Linked DNA regions of Homo sapiens: region 2 is linked to region 1. Evidence: fine-mapped expression QTL. Tissue or cell type: whole blood. Region 1 holds a variant in brackets; the other region holds the start of a gene. All regions are shown on one strand. Distances are from middle to middle.

Region 1 (8,215 bases):
GCGTGGTGGCAGCCGTCTGTAATCCCAGCTACTTGGGAGGCTGAGGCAGGAGAATCGCTTGAACCTGGGAGGCAAAGGTTGCAGTGAGCCAAGATGGCACCACTGGACTCCTGCCTGGGTAACAGAGCAAGACTCTGTCTCAAAATAAATAAATAAATAAAATAAAATAAAAGAGAAAATGAGAACCCAGAGAGAGAAGAGACACACAGCAAGCCACTTCTGCCCCAAAAGCAAAACCGAGGTGCTATCTGATGAATTCACAGAGTTGCGGGGGGACATTGAGTCAGTCTTCAAGCCTGAGGTGAGAGTTATAAGGGAGAACTTCCCCAAGTTAAGCTGGAACCCAAAAATCTACACCCTTAGAGTAAGAGTTAATAAAAAGTCAACCCTGCAACCTTCCCCCAGTCCCAGGAAATGGTCTTGGCCATAAACAGATCAAGGAAGAAAACAGAAAAATCCACCTCTGCGAAGTTGGGGCTATGGGTTAACCCCCTTATGTATTTGCAGCTCAAATTTGTGCCAGTGGGGTGTTTCAAGAAACCTCAAGCTATGAATTTAGGATAAAGTGATTTCGTTCTGCTTAGCACCTGGCAGAAGGAAACATTAATTACCTGGTGTCAGGCCCTGAGGAGCAGCACAGTAAAGATAACAAAACACACAAGAAATAATACACCATGATCAAGAACCAGCAGAAATGACAGACGGCAGACACAGAGACACAGCCTTGGAAGGCCCACAGACACTGGAATGACAGATCTCTCTGGAAGGATCTGGAGGCTGGGCCTTGGTTGGGAATAGGAGAAGGGCTCTGGCTGGGAGGGAGTAAGGCCTGGGGCTTGATGGGGGTGGGGGAGCCATTCACATACCCAGTGCTAGAGAGACGTGGTCACACATGCCCAGAAGTTGTCCGAAACAGACAGTCCCATCCAGAGGAATGCCCAGCTCCCACATGCTACAGAAAAGGCCACATCATCAGTCCAGACTGTGGCTGCATCTACAGCTTAAAGTCAGCCACTATGCACCCATATGGCGGCTCCAGTAATTCAAACATTGAAGTATTTCCAAACTCAATGATACATAATAACCAGTCCTTTGCATTCCTTGAAGGTCCCCCAGTGACTCCCAGCCAGTTCCCTGGAGCCCTCAGACCTCCTCATGCCCCAGCAAATAAGGGGCAACGTCTTGTCCATCTGGGACCTATAAGGACTTACAGGTATAGCAGGGGTTAATGTGTTTGTTTGTTTGTTTGTTTTAAGAGGTAGGGACTTGCTTTGTTACCCAGGCTGGAGTGCAGTGGCTCAAGCACTGCTCACTGCAGTCTCAACCTCTTGGGCTCAAGTGATCCTTCCACCTCCGGAATAGCTGGGACTACAGGTGTGCGCCACCACACCCAGCTGTTTTTTTTTTTTTAATTTGTTGTAGAAATGGGGTCTTGCTGTGTTGCCCAGGCTGGTCTCAAACAATCCTCCACCTTCGCCTCCCAAAGTGTTGGGATTATAGGCATGTGCCAACCATGCCTGGCTATAAATATTTTTAAAATTCTCCCCAGAACACCTCTGTCCATCTCTGGCATTTGAGCAAAGGAGAGGAAGGGAGGGCCCTTTTGTGGGCACCTATTTCCCGCCCATCCCTCCACCTCATACCGCTTGGTTGCCTGGCGAACAGATTCCTCATTGTGGGAAGCCACCATGAGGTGGCACATGGGGCCATGGCGGGCCACGTGCGTCAGCATCAGTTCCAGGCAGCGGCTGTAACTGAAGGGAGATGCTCTGTTCAGCTCACCTGGTGAGCGAGGGTCAGGCCCCAGCGACTGGGGTGGGTGGGGTGCTCCTAAGCAAGGGGTCTCTGGAACCAGTACTCTGTTCCATCTGCACCAGTTGTAAGGGACATCACTTCTCTGAGCCACTTTCATCTTCTGGGGTTTTTTGGGGGTTTTGTTTGTTTGTTTTTGAGATGGAGTCACTCTGTTGCCCAGGCTGGAATGCAGTGGCATGATCTCAGCTCACTGCAACCTCCACCTCCCAGGTTCAAGGGATTCTCCTGCCTCAGCCTCCCGAGCAGCTGGGATTACAGGCGTGCACCATCACACCCGGCTAATTTTTGTATTTTTAGTAGAGACGGAGTTTCGCCATGTTGCCCAGGCTGGACTCGAACTCCTGACCTCAGGTGATCTGCCCGCCTCAGCCTCCCAGAGTGCTGGGATTACAGGCGTGAGCCACCGCACCCGGCCCCATGTTAATCTCTTGTCACTGTGAGTTTCCGAGCAACACTGTTGTGAGGATGGAGTGAGATAAGGGGGATATGAAGTCTTTGGGACAGTGGCGGCGGTCTCACAGGAGAGGGTCGCATCACATGCACAAGATGACATTTCCCCAAGGTTATCACTGCTGCATTGTCAACAGAACATCACTAGCAACAGCCCAAATGTCCATAAATGGGGAACTGGCTAAGGAAATTGTGGTACAGAGAAGATAGTGCTCTATCGCGCAACTGTGAAAAGGAAGGAAGACACTGTCTGGGTACTGATATGGAAGAGGAAATAGATTGGCAAACACCTTGCAAGCATGCTGCAGGCCACGGGCCACGCTATGTATTTCACATCCTCTGTGGGTCTTCCCTATCGCCCCCCAGACCTGTTTTCTACCCTTCTCTGCCCCTCAGGAAGCTGACACTTTTGCCCCACATCCCCCATGGAGTCATGTGCAGGAAGGAGTGTGGGTGTCTCACCTCGGCCCCTCCCTGCTCACCCTGACTGTGTTCTGTGTGTGGCCACAGCTCCCTAAGGTGGCCCCTCTCCTTCAACTACAGCATAGGGGTCAAAATAGCTTCCTAATAGCTTCCCTGACTTTGCCCACACTTCCTTTTCGTTTTGTGTTTTTTAGAGACTGGGTCTCACTCTGTTGCCCAGGTTGGAGTGCAGTGGCGTGATCTCGGCTCACGGAATCCTCCAACTCCTGGGCTCAAGCGATCCTCCCACCTTGGGCTCCCAAAGTGCTGGGATTACAGGTGTGAGGCCCTGCACCTGGCCCCTGACACTTCTATAAACAGCCTCTTCACCACATTTCCTTTAGTTAAAACCCTTTGTGCAGAATTCTGTTTGCTTTGGAGAAAGCTAATCACTCATCTAATTCCCACATCAACTCTGGGAGGCAGATGTTCTTATTCCATTTTAACAGAGTGGGGAGACTGAAGCTGAGAGGGGTTCTATCTCTTGTCCCCAGGTCACACAGCTAGAGGTGGCCAGGCTGGGATTTGAACTCAGGCTGTCTGATGCTCCAGAGCCCAGGCTCCTTATCGGTAGGCTAGTCTGCCTTTAAAATGCACAGTTGTGGCTGGACATGCTGGCTTACGCCTATAATCCCAGCACTTGGGGAGGCCAAGGCAGGAGGGCTGCTTCAGCCTAGGAGTTCAAGACTAGCCTGGGCAACATAGGGAGACCCCGTGTCTACAAAAATAAAAAAATGTGTTGGGTATGGTGGTGTGCGCTGGTGGTCTTAGCTACTGGGGAGACTGAGGTGGGAGGATGGCTTGGGCCTGGGGAGTCAAGGCTGCAGTGAGCCAAGATCGCACCACTGCACTCCAGCCTGGGCGACAGAGTGAGACCCTGTCTCAAAAATAACTTAAAAAACAAATGAAAAAAGCCAAATATACAAGGGCACATATTGTATGATTCCATTTATAAGATTGTCTAGAATAGGCAAATCCACAGAGACAAAAAGTAGGTTAGTGGTTTCCAGGGGCTGAGGGGAGGAGGGAACAGAAGGCAGCTGACTGCTCATTGGTATGAGGTTACTTTTTGGGGTGATGAAAATATTGTGGAATCAAAGAGTGGTGATGGTTGCACAATTTTGGGAATATACTAAACTCCACTGAATTGTACATGTTAAAATTGTGAATTCTATGATACGTGAATTATATTTCAATATTTAAAATAATAGTGCAAATTATTATTATTATTTTGAGATGGAGTCTCACTCTGTCGCCCAGGCTGGAGTGTAGTGGCTCAATCTTGGCTCACTACAACCTTTGCCTCCTGGGTTCAAGTGATTCTCCTTCCTCAGCCTCCCAAGTAGCTGGGATTACCAGTGCAAGCCACCACACCCGGCTAATTTTTGTATTTTTAGTAGAGACAGGGTTTCACCATGTTTGTCAGGCTGGTCTC[A/T]AACTCCTGACCTCAGGTGATCTGCCTGCCTCAGCCTCCCAAAGTGCCGGGATTACAAGCGTGAGCCACCATGCCCGGCCATAATTTTTTGTGTTTAATGTTTTTTACAGATGGGGTCTTGCTATGTTGTGCAGATTGGGCTCAAACCCCTGGGCTCAAGCAATCTTCCTGCCTCAGCCTCCCAAGTAGTTGGGATGACAGGTGCACACCACTGTGCCTGGCTTGGTGCCAGTTAAGCTGATGGTACACAAACGTGCCCTGGAGCCCCTGCAGATCTTGGACATGAGCCTGGATTCCAAGCGTGGCTAGGCCACCTGCTCTGTAGCCTGGCTGAGTCCCTGTGGCCCCCAGAGAAGGTACCAAGAAGTAAAGATCTAAGGAGGTGAGGGATGGGGCCATGCCACTGTCTGCAGTGGGAATGTCCCAGGCAGTGGAAACAGGATGTGCCAAGCCCCTGGGTAACATGGAGGAGGCCAGTGTGGCTGTAGTGGAGTGAGGGAGAGGAAGAGAGGGAGGGAAAGTTAGGGAAGTGACAGGGAGCATGTGGGGCTTAGAGGCCACTGTAAGGATTTCTTTTTGTTTTGTTTTGTTTGTTTGTTTGTTTGTTTGTTTGTTTTGAGACAGATTCTCGCTCTGCTGCCCAGGCTGAAGTGCAGTGGTGCAGTCATGGCTCACTGCAGCCTTGAACTCCTGGCCTCAAGTGATCCTCCCACCTCAGCCTCCTAAGTGGCTGGAACCACAGGCATGTGCTACCACACCTGACTATTTTTAAAATTTTTTAGAGATGGGGTCTCCCTGTGTTGCCCAGGCTGGTCTCCAACTCCTGCTCTCAAGTGAATCTCTAGCCTCAGCCTCCCAAAGCACTGGGATTACAGGTATGAGCCACTGCACCCAACCACTAGGTGTTATTATTTCCTGCAGAGGCCAGCTGGCCCGGGCCTACCTCTGACTGGTGGCCTCATAGTCAGGCTGAGTGGGGTCTTCCATCCCATGGAGCTGGGCCACCGCTCTCTCCTTGTCCAGATATGCACCTCGTACCAGCTTCACTCCGAAGGCCAGGCCGGCCCTGTGCGCAGCCTCTGCATCCCTCCCCAGCCGCTCGAATGTGTCCTATAGGGCACGCAGGCAGGTTCTGGTAGGTCAGGGTGTGGGGACCCCAGCCTGTACCTCCTGGAACACACTGCACACCTTTAGACAGGCCTGGTAGGTGTTCCACACCCAGGGCCCGCCTTCACCCGGGCTGTTCCAGCGCACAGCCAGGGCAGCCACCAGCAGCGAGAGCGCAGGGTTCAGTGAGGTGTACTCCGCATCCACCAGGAGCCGCACGTGCTGGGCCCGGGCATACTGATGGCGACAGAGACGACGGTCAGGGCCCCGGGTGTCCAGCAGGGGCAGTGGAGCCAGATCCCAGCAGGAGGGGTTACCTGTGCCACCCGATGCAGGCGGCTGAGGGAGGCCCGGAGGTGCTGGTTCCAGCAGGAGGGGTTACCTGTGCCACCCAATGCAGGCGGCAGAGGGAGGCCCGGAGGTGCTGGTTCCAGCAGGAGGGGTTACCTGTGCCACCCGATGCAGGCGGCTGAGGGAGGCCCGGAGGTGCTGGTTCTGCTCAGCATTGAGGCAGGAGACCTGGAGGTTCTAGGGGGCAGCAGGGGAAGTGGGGAAAAGCTTATAAGTTGCTAGAAATCTAAAAATGAGCAATATCAGTTAGGTACTATTTATTGAGGGGGTTATGAGCCTAGAATCAGGGCTCGAATCCAGGCTTCACCACCTACTGTGTGACCTTGGGCAAGTTATGTAACCTTTCTGGGCCTCAGTTTTTGTTTGTTTGTTTTTTGAAACAGAGTCTTGCTCTGTTGCCCAGGCTGGAGTGCAGTGGCATGATCTCAGCTCACTGCAACCTCTGCCTCCTGGGTTCAAGTGATTCTCCTGCTTCAGCCTCCCGAGTAGCTGGGATTACAGGCGCCCGCCACCATGCCCGGCTAATATTTGTACTTTTAGTAGAGACAGGGTTTAACCATGTTGGCCAGGCTGGTCTCGAACTCCTGACCTCAAGTGATCTGCCCACATCGGCCTCCCAAAGTGCTGGGATTACAGGTGTGAGCCACCGTGCTCAGCCCTCCCTGCTACTCTTTGAACACGAGGGCACCTTCCCACCTCCAGCCCTTTACCTGCTCCCATGTTTCCTTCAAGTATTTGCTCTAATGTCACTTTCTCAACATGGTTTTCCCACCTATACATTGGCAACTTCTTTTCCTCTTCCTCAGCCTTATTTTCCCTTACTTGTTACGTACTGACTTTTGTTTTGCTGAGACGGGGTCTTGCTGTGTTGCCCAGGCTGGAATGCAGTGGCACGATCATGGCTCACTGCAGCCTCCACCTCCCCAGCTCAAGCAATCCTCCTGCTTCAGCCTTCCAAGTACCTAGTACCACAGGCACCCACCACCATGCCGGGCTAATTCTTTACTATTTGTAGAGTCAAGGTCTTCCTATGTTGCCCAGGCTGGTCTCAGTCTCCTGGACTCAAGCGATCCTCCCACCTCAGCCTTCCAAAGTGCTGGGATTCTGACTTTGGTTTTAATTATTGTCTCTTGCCCCTGACTTGCAAGTAAGTGCCTCGAGGTCAGGGATTTTGCCTTCATGCTTCCTCGGCCCCTAGCACCGTGTCTGGAACAAGATAGATGTTCAGCAAACACTTCGGGAGTGGATATGCTTGTAACATGGAAATAAGAACCGTTTCTAACTCACAGTCTTATGCAGATTCATCTGGCTGAATGTGAGCTGCTGGTGACTCCAGGGAGTCTGGCTGGGTTCAAAGAAGTTGGGAAATGGAAGAAAGAGGAACAGGTGGGGCTGAAAGCTTTATTATATCCAACAGGGTCGATACAGATGACATAGGCCTGGGCTTGCTCATGGAATCCCACCTGGAGGCAGGTTGGGCTGGAAGCTGCAACCTTCCGCATGGTGGGGAGAATGCTGCCTCCTGGAGAAGGGAAGACCTGGAGGCAGCAGCCTGGTTTCCTCCTCCCCTGTCAGAGGATTGTCTCCTGCTTGACTTGGGGCGTAGTCTTAGGCCCTCAGGGAGCTATTTCAGACACCCACCAAATATTTAACTCATTTAATATTTACCACTCTCTAATGTACCAACTGTTATTATCCCCCCATTTTCTAGATGGGGAAACTGAGGCACAGAGCAGGGAAGTCACTTGTCAAAAGTCACACAGCTAACTCAGGGCAGACCTGAGGTTTAAACCTCAGCCTTTCCAGAGCCTGGGTCTTTCTCTCTTTTCTCCCTCCCTCCCTCCTTCCCTCCCTTCCTTCCTTCCTTCTTTTTTTTTTTTTTTTGAGATAGATCTCACTCTGTCTCCCAGGCAAGAGTGCAGTGGTGCAAGTTCAAGTGATTCCCCTGCCTCAGCCTCCTGATTAACTGGGGCTACAGGCACGTGCCACCACTTCTGGATAAGTTTTATATTTTTAGTAGAGATGGGGTTTCACCATGTTGCCCAGGCTGGTCTCAAACTCCTGACCTCAAGTGATCCAGCCCCACTTAGCCTCCCAAAGTGCTGGGATTACAGGTGTGAGCTACAGCACCTGGCCCTTTTTTCTTTCTTTCTTTATTTCTTTCTTCCTTCCTTCCTTCCTTCCTTTCCTTCCTTCCTTCCTTCCTCCCTCCCTCTCTTTCTTTCTTCGCTCTCAAACTTGCCAGCTCAAGCAATCCTCCCACCTTAGCCTCCCAAGTAGCCAGGATTACAGGTGCCTGCCACCACACCCAGCTAATTTAAAGGAATTTTTTGTAGAGATGAGGGTTTACTATATTACTCAGGTTGGTATTGACCTCCTGGGCTCAAGCGACCCTCCTGCCTTAGCCTCCACACCAGGTGTGCACCAGCACACAGGCTGATTTTTTAATTTTTTTGTAGAGATGAGATCTCACTATGTTGCCCAGGCAGGTCTCAAACTCCTGGGCTCAAGTGAGCCTCCAATTTCAGCCTCCCAAAATGCAGATTACAGGCATGAGGCACTGCACCCAGCCTGTTTTAATCCTTAAAACCACTG
Region 2 (8,000 bases), 56 kb before region 1:
GCCCCAGAAGGGGAAGGGCCAGGGAGCCGTTAACCCCCGAGGCTCCGTGCCGGGTCTCACCTGGCTGAATGTCGGCTTGTTGTGAAGCCGGGAGCACCGGTCCCCGTGCCGGCAGACCCCGATCTTAAAGTAAAAAGAGCAGTTAACCCTGGAAAAGGTGCAAAGACAAAGGTGAACCGAGGGCCGGGGAAGCTGGGCACCCCAGAAACACCGCCCCACCACCCAGGACCCCAGTACCCCGGCCCCGACCCCCCGAGAGTCCACTCCCAGCGCCCGTTCTCACTTGTCCTTCTCAGTCCCGAATATCGAAGCTAAATATTCAGCCATTTTTACCCAAGCCCTCCAGGTCTGGCTGCTCTTACGTCACTTCCGTTGCTTAGGAGCACTGGGAAGTGTAGTTCGTTGCCCTCTCCAGGCGCTTACCAAGCGCTCGGAAACGCCCCAGGGCGCTTGCGCGTGGGAGGCGCGCGCCCTCCCCATAGACTCCCCGGTAGGAGTTCTTTTAACAGCGCATGCGTGCAGTGTTGCCTCGCCCAAAGAAGACTACAATCTCCAGGGAAACCTGGGGCGTCTCGCGCAAACGTCCATAACTGAAAGTAGCTAAGGCACCCCAGCCGGAGGAAGTGAGCTCTCCTGGTGAGTTGGGGGTCGTTTCGCCCACCCTAGTAAATATAAAGAGCTCTTTAATCCAGCCAGCTTACTAGTGGGGGTGGGGATGCCCTGCTTTCAGCAAACCGACCTTTACATTTATCTCTGATTTGTTCTAATAGGGGCGTGGTTGTTCGTGATCCTTGCATCTGTTACTTAGGGTCAAGGCTTGGGTCTTGCCCCGCAGACCCTTGGGACGACCCGGCCCCAGCGCAGCTATGAACCTGGAGCGAGTGTCCAATGAGGAGAAATTGAACCTGTGCCGGAAGTACTACCTGGGTAAGGCAGATCGCTAGGGTCCCAGGAGAAGAGAGGGGACTGGACTAGAGCACCCGAGGGAAGAGGGCCTCGGGGCCTGGATTCTTAAGTCTAAGAGATGAAGGACCTGCGAACGCCGACTCCTGGATTTGAGTGGGGAGGGCCTGGGTCCTGAGGAATGAGGAAGCTGGGGCCTCAATTTCTGGATCCCAAGAGAGGAGGGGGATTGAGGGCCTGGACTCTTGGGTCCTGTGAAAGAGATGGTTGAGGAATCAGATTCCTGGATCCCAAAGAGGAGCCAGATTCCTGAGTCCCTGACAACAGAAATCTCCATTTGAACTTGGGTGTGGGAGAGTTTCTTCCAAATAGATCTCGGTGGGAGTTGGAGAAGATCTTCATTGCCTTATGAGGTTTTGGGGTTTGTTTGTTTGTTTTTCTTTCTCCCTAGGGGGGTTTGCTTTCCTGCCTTTTCTCTGGTTGGTCAACATCTTCTGGTTCTTCCGAGAGGCCTTCCTTGTCCCAGCCTACACAGAACAGAGCCAAATCAAAGGCTGTGAGTCTAGAGCACAGAGGAGGGAGGCCAGTGGCAGGGGAGAGGGGGAAGCGGGGAATCTTGGTGGGAAGGGACAATGGAGGATCCAAAATGTTGGGGCTCTGGGTGAGAAGGGAAGGCTGGTCTAGGGAAGTCTGGAGAGCAGCCGGAGGCCAACCCTTCCAGCTTCTGTTTCCCATGACAGATGTCTGGCGCTCAGCTGTGGGCTTCCTCTTCTGGGTGATAGTGCTCACCTCCTGGATCACCATCTTCCAGATCTACCGGCCCCGCTGGGGTGCCCTTGGGGACTACCTCTCCTTCACCATACCCCTGGGCACCCCCTGACAACTTCTGCACATACTGGGGCCCTGCTTATTCTCCCAGGACAGGCTCCTTAAAGCAGAGGAGCCTGTCCTGGGAGCCCCTTCTCAAACTCCTAAGACTTGTTTTCATGTCCCACGTTCTCTGCTGACATCCCCCAATAAAGGACCCTAACTTTCGATACTGACTTCCTGGGATCTTTTAGAGGTTGAGGCATAAATGATTATTAATATTTAAAAACATCTGTTGAGAGCTTTGTACGAGGCTTAGTATTTAGACATGATGTACATTTTTTACAGTGCATACTACTCATAATCTTCTGAACTAGGAACTTTCCTGCTCAGGAAACTATTAGATGAGAAACTAAGAAAGGAATAGTGCTTCCATTTCTTTTTCTTTTTTCTTTTTTTTTTTTTTTTTTGAGACAGAGTCTTGCTCTGTCAGCCAGGCTGGAGTGCAGTGGTAGGATCGGCCTAGTGCTTCCATTTCTAGGGGCTGTTATCCTGTACTGGTAGTCGTGAATTCAAAAATATAACTTTCCTACTGTGGGCTGCAGTATTCTCATCAGAAGTGTAGATCACGATGCTACTTCCTGGGATTTATCTGGACCAAGACGTGTGACAAATGGAAGTTTCCCGTTTTCTGAAGGAAGTGTTGTCTGCAAAAATAAAAATAGTCAAGAGCTTTCTCAGAGAATCCTTCCTTGACCATCCATCTTATTTAAAATTCAATCACCACCTTGATATTCCTATGTCCCTTTCAGGCTACACTTTTTTTGTGGGTTTTTTTTTTGGGGGGGGAGAGGGGTTTGTTGTTGTTGTCTGTTTGTTTTTCTAGATGGAGTCTTGCTCTGTCACCCAGGCTGGAGTGCAGAGGTCCGATCTCGGCTCACTGCAACCTCCGCCTCCCGGGTTCAAGCGATTCTCCTGCCTCAAACTCTCGAATAGCTGGGATTACAGGCGCATGCCACCATGCCCGGCTAATTTTTGTATTTTTAGTAAAGACTGGGTTTCACCATGTTGGCCAGGCTGGTCTCGAACTCCTGGTCACAGGTGATCTGCCTGCCTAGGCCTCCCAAAGAGCTGGGATTTACAGGCGTGAGCCACCATGCCCCGCCCAGATCATATTCTTTCTCCTATTACATTTCACTTAAAATTTACTTGTTTACTGTTTATCTTCCCTCCTTTAAAAGATAAGCTCCATTAGCGCAGGGATTTTTGTCTATTCTGTTCCTCAAGGTGTCTCCAATGCCTAGAAGAGTGCCCGACACACTAATAAATATTTGCAAAATGAATGAAGTTGTACCTGCAAAGAGATTAACAGATACCTGGCACCTAGCGAGTGCTCAGTGAGAGGGAACCCAACGTTATTTTACATTAGTCTTCCTCTTAGGGATGAAGGGACCCCAACGGTTGGTTAAATCCGGTAAAGAGCTAACTTGGTGTTGCTCAACCCTTCTCACACTACAAGTCCCGGGAAGCCTCGCGATGCCCTAATCCTTTGTTTCCCACCGTGCCCCGCGCGGCGCAGGCGCTGTTACTCAGGGTGAGTCTGGGAAGCTGGAACTACACCTCCCAGGAAGCTAGGGGGTAGATGGTTTGTTTCCGGAAGCAAAGCCCCAGGTGGGTGGGACCTAAAGCTGGGAGACTACGGAGGCAGCTCTCAATTGGTCAGGATGCGAGATTGACGGCTGCAATAACTAATAGGAACAAGCTACTGCCGAAGGGGCCCGCCCACAGAAGGGTGGTGGCCACGGTCCAGGCTGGACACAACCAAAGGCGGAGGACCCGTGGCCCACGAAGCTCATCTTTGAACTGTCCCCGCCTTCTCCCGCCTTGACTTGTGACCCTAGGCCCTTTGGGGCGCCTCTGACCCAGCTAGCCAGATCCCGGACCCAAACCATGTTCCCTGTGAAGGTGAAAGTGGAGAAATCAGGTGAGGACCCTGACGTCGGGGGCCTGTCGGGACCATCGGGTTGACAGGGTGTGGAGTCCCGGTGGAAGGGAGTATCGCGGAAAGGGGACTGCACGACTTTTCCCTGAAGCCCACCTGACAATCGCTGTATCAGGCAGCGAGCGTTGCCTGCCACCTTCACACCCTCCCGGTGTGCGCTTGAAGTCGCTTTGAGATTGAATGGGGTGGCTCGGGCAATGACGTGCGTGGTAGGACATGGGGAATCCTGAGCCGGTAACTCTGAGAAGGGCCCTTTTCTTTCCTCTTTTTTTTAATTTAAATTTTTAAAATATTTAAATAGAGACGGAGTATCGCTATATTGCCCAGGCTGGTCTCGAACTCCTGGTCTCAAGCGATCCTCCCGCCTTAGCCTCCCAAAGTGCTGAGATTACAGGCGTGAGTCCCCGCGCCCAGCCGAGAAGTTCTCTTTTCTTGGCTTCCCCTCAGTTTCCCCATTTCCAGCAGTGATCAGAGTCACACATCTTGCTGTGAGCCTGAAGTACAGGCACTCTTAATCCTCACAGTCACTATATTCCAGTAATCCTAGAAAATAGGAACTGTGGTCAATGGGTGAAGCTTAGAAAGAGGAGAGAATTTTGGGTTGGGGCGGAGCTGACCGGATCCCAGGCCTGGCATGGTAAGGGCAGTGGGAGGGGTGCAGAATTTAGACAGAAAGATAATAGTAAAATGATGTAGGATGTCCCATGGCAAAAGTGTTATTAAAACAAAGTGGGAGGCTGGGTGCGGTGGCTCACACCTGTAATCCCAACACTTTGGGAGGCCGAGGCTGGCAGATCACTTGAGGTCAGGAGTTTGAGACCAGCCTGGGCAACATAGCGAAACGCTGTCTCTATAAAAAATACAAAAAAAAAAAAAAAATTAGCCAGGTGTGGTGGCACAAGCCTGTAGTCCCAGCTACTCAGGAGGCTGAGGCAGGAGGATCGCTGGAGCCGGGGAGGCGGAGGTTGCAGTGAGCTGAGATCACACCACTGCACTCCAGCCTGGGTGATAGATTGAGACCCTGTCTCAAAAAAAAAAAAAAAGAAAGGAAAAGAAAAGAAAGAAAGAAAAGAGAAGTGGGTGTGACCACAAATGATGGTGAGGGAAGGTGTACACCTGTGAGTGCCAGGCTGAGGAGTGCAGACTCCACCCCTGGGTGCTGTGGAGTCATGGAAGTTTCCAAGCAAGGGAAGATCAGGGTCAGGTTTGTTATTTTTCAGGAAGATTCCCCTGGCTGCCTTGTGGAGGGTGTATCAGAAGGGGGACACTGAGGCAGGGAGCCAAGGGGGAGCAAAGGACAGGACCAGGATGGGTAGAGTAGGGAGGAGGTGGGTGGGAGAGACACTCGGGAGGCCTAGTGGACAGGCCATGGGGTTGGTGGGCTGGGTAGGGGAGGGAGAGGGGTATCCATGGTGAGGTACAGGGAGGGACTTGGGGACAGTGAGGCGACCCTTGAGAGGGAGGCTTCAGGCCCAAGTCGGGGGTTCAGGAGAGAGGCTGGGCCTGAGGAGAGTTGTGGACGTGATCCGTACCCTCTGCATCTGCCCAAGGCTTTGCTGCAATCTCAGCTACTCCCTTCCCCACCCTCACTCTGTCTCTCCTCTGAGCTATGTTTGAATCCCTGTGTCTCCTGGGCTTCTCAGGAAGTCCCTGGACTGGTCAGGCAAGTTCCCAGGTGTCCCCTCCAGGCTCTGAGCACTAGAGCCAGAGCTCCCACCAGTCAGAAAGGCAGAGCAAACACCTCTCAAAGGTAGGAGGACAGCGTAACATCATCACTTCCTCAAGTTCTGTGATGACGGGAGGCAGCCACAGGCTAACTGGGCAGGAAGGTGGGCCTAGATCTCATTTCCCGAGGGGGAAAAAAAAGCCCAAACAGGATGTTTTAGGTGAAATCTCCCAATTTTGGCTGGGTGCGGTGGCTTCTGCCTGTAATCCAGCACTTTGGGAGGCTGAGGCAGGTGGATCATGAGGTCAGGAGTTTGAGATCAGCCTGGTCAATATGGTGAAACCCTGTCTGTACTAAAAATAGAAAAAATTAGTTGACCATGGTGGCACGCGCCTGTAGTCCCAGTTCTTTGGGAGGCTGAGGCAGGAGAATCACTTGTACTCAGGAGGCAGAGGTTGCAGTGAGCCGAGATCACGCCACTGCACTCCAGCCTGGGAGACAGAGCAAGACTCCGTCTCAAAAAAAAGAAAAGAAAGAAATCTCCCAATTTTTAAATGTCAGCTCATTCAGATTGAATTCAGATTTAAAATTATACCACTGTTGGCCGGGCATGGTGGCTCACGCCTGTAAGCACTTTGGGAGCCTGAGGCCAGCAGATCACTGAGGTCAGGAGTTTGAGACCAGCCTGGTCAACGTGGTAAGACCCCATCTCTACTAAAAATACAAAAATTAGCCAGGCGTGGTGGCGGGCGCCTGTAATCCCAGCTATTTGGGAGGCTGAGGCAGGAGAATCACTTGAACCTGGGAGGTGGAGGTTGCAGTGAGCCAAGATTATGCCACTGCATTCCAGCCTGGGTGACAGAGCAAGACTCCGTCTCACAAAACAGAAATACATTAATTAATTAAAATAAAATTATACCACTGCCTCAACCAGATTCTGCACTCAGGTTGAGCCTCTGTCTCATAACTTCAGCTTTGGAACCAGACAGCCTGGGTTCAAATCATCAGCTCTGCAATTTCTTTGCTGTGTGCCTTTGAGCACGTGGCCTAACATCTCTGTGCCTCAGTTTCATCATCTTTAAAATAGGAATAAAAATCATATCTATCTGAGCTGGGCTCTATGGCATGTGCCTATAGCCCCAGCTACTTGGGAGGCTGAGACAGCAGGACCGCTTGAGCCCAGGAGTTCAAAACCGGACAACATCGTGATATCCTTTTTCAAGAAAAAAAAAAATCACATCTACCTCTAAGGGTTATTGTGATAATTCAGTGGGTTATTATTTGTAATATATAGCATATTTAAACCTTGCCACTGGGACAGGCACAGTGGCTCACACCTGTAATCCCAGCACTTTGGGAAGCCGAGATGGCTCACCTGAATCTAGGAGTTCAAGACCAGCTTGGTCAATATCATTAAGACTCCATCTCTATACAATTTTTTTGTAATAAATTTATATTATATTAAAACACATTTTTTTAAAACCCAAAAGGCTCATAAGGTAAGGTGATTGGCCTTACCTCCTGTCACAGAGCAATCACGTGGGACAGCTCTGGAACTCAGAGCTCTGGGCATCACTCCAGCCATCTCTGCCTGTTGCACCCTTTCAGGCTGCCTGGGCCTGGCTCTGAGATTGGCCAGGGCAGAGGACACGCACGCCCTTCCCTGGCCCAGTCAGCTGCCCACCTAGCTGGGGCCTGGGAGCTGACTCCTGCTGGGTCCTCTCTTGCCCCAGAGCTGGAGATGGCCAAAGCCCGGAACCAACTGGATGCTGTCTTGCAGTGTCTGCTGGAGAAGAGTCACATGGACAGGTAGGCCAGCGTGGGGTCACAGGGCCGGGCACCCTGGTGGGTTGGGCCCTCTGATCCTGGGTGGATTGGGTGGGACCCCACAGGCTGACTTGGGGAGGAAGGTGCTTAATGGGGAGGCTGCTCGGTGCCTTCCTTCTCTGGGGCCCTGGAACCCTGAGCTGAGAGATCTCTTCTGCCTCTAGGGAGCGTCTGGATGAGGAAGCTGGGAAAACACCCTCAGACACCCACAATAAGTGAGTTTTTCTGATTGGATTTGGAGTTGAGAGTTCGTGGTTGGTAACTTCTTTCCTTATCCAAGCCCTGACCGCTCAGCCCAGCGCTACCTCCATCGTGGCCCGGACCACTCCACCTGTACAAAGACCCTGTGGCAGGAGAAGCTTAGGTCCCCCCGTGGTTGCCACCTAGACCCCCATGGGTATGGGTGGGACAAAAGGCCCAAGAGGCAAGTGGGGTTCATGTGAGCATCTCAGGTTTGATACCAGTATCCCCAGGGTGCCCTCTGCAGGGTTTTGCACAGGCGTTTGTCTGAGGGTCAACTGTCTTTCCCCACAGGGACTGCTCCATCGCAGCCACTGGCAAAAGGTAAGGTGGCAGGGTCCCAGCCAGCTGACTAGAGGCTCCCAGCTCCTACCCCAGTCCTGACACTCCCTCTCCCTACGCAGGCCATCTGCCCGCTTCCCCCACCAGCGGAGGAAGAAGAGGAGGGAGATGGATGATGGGCTGGCTGAGGGAGGGCCGCAGCGATCCAGTGAGTAGACAGTGGCCCTAGAGGGTCGGTAAGGAGCCAAGGGCCTATGCAAGGATGCTCACACA

Evidence for each region. PIP is the estimated chance that this variant, and not a neighbour inherited with it, causes the effect.
Region 2: LIN37 starts here. The variant in region 1 is fine-mapped to the expression of LIN37 in whole blood (TOPMed, PIP 0.97).

What each region holds. Positions count from the first base shown.
Region 1 is chr19:35,801,325-35,809,539 of GRCh38, forward strand. PRODH2 (proline dehydrogenase 2) reads right to left here. Exons shown (of 10, transcript NM_021232.2): 5 at 5,717-5,797; 6 at 5,351-5,506; 7 at 5,106-5,272; 8 at 1,644-1,754; 9 at 867-952. Among named protein-coding and RNA genes, the nearest start is that of PRODH2, 7.4 kb to the right of the region's middle. RefSeq lists an enhancer at 5,609-6,109. The variant A/T (reference allele first, on the strand shown) is at 4,163.
Region 2 is chr19:35,745,065-35,753,064 of GRCh38, forward strand. LIN37 (lin-37 DREAM MuvB core complex component) reads left to right here and starts at 3,512. Exons shown (of 9, transcript NM_019104.3): 1 at 3,512-3,694; 2 at 7,112-7,187; 3 at 7,370-7,420; 4 at 7,740-7,769; 5 at 7,850-7,935. The coding sequence starts at 3,661. It overlaps U2AF1L4 (U2 small nuclear RNA auxiliary factor 1 like 4), which reads right to left and starts at 354. Exons shown (of 6, transcript NM_001040425.3): 1 at 284-354; 2 at 61-148. The coding sequence starts at 327. It overlaps PSENEN (presenilin enhancer, gamma-secretase subunit), which reads left to right and starts at 587. Exons shown (of 4, transcript NM_172341.4): 1 at 587-636; 2 at 771-927; 3 at 1,355-1,459; 4 at 1,644-2,455. The coding sequence starts at 867. The coding sequence ends at 1,783. RefSeq lists enhancers at 2,766-3,280, 3,182-3,241, 3,281-3,795, 3,642-3,761.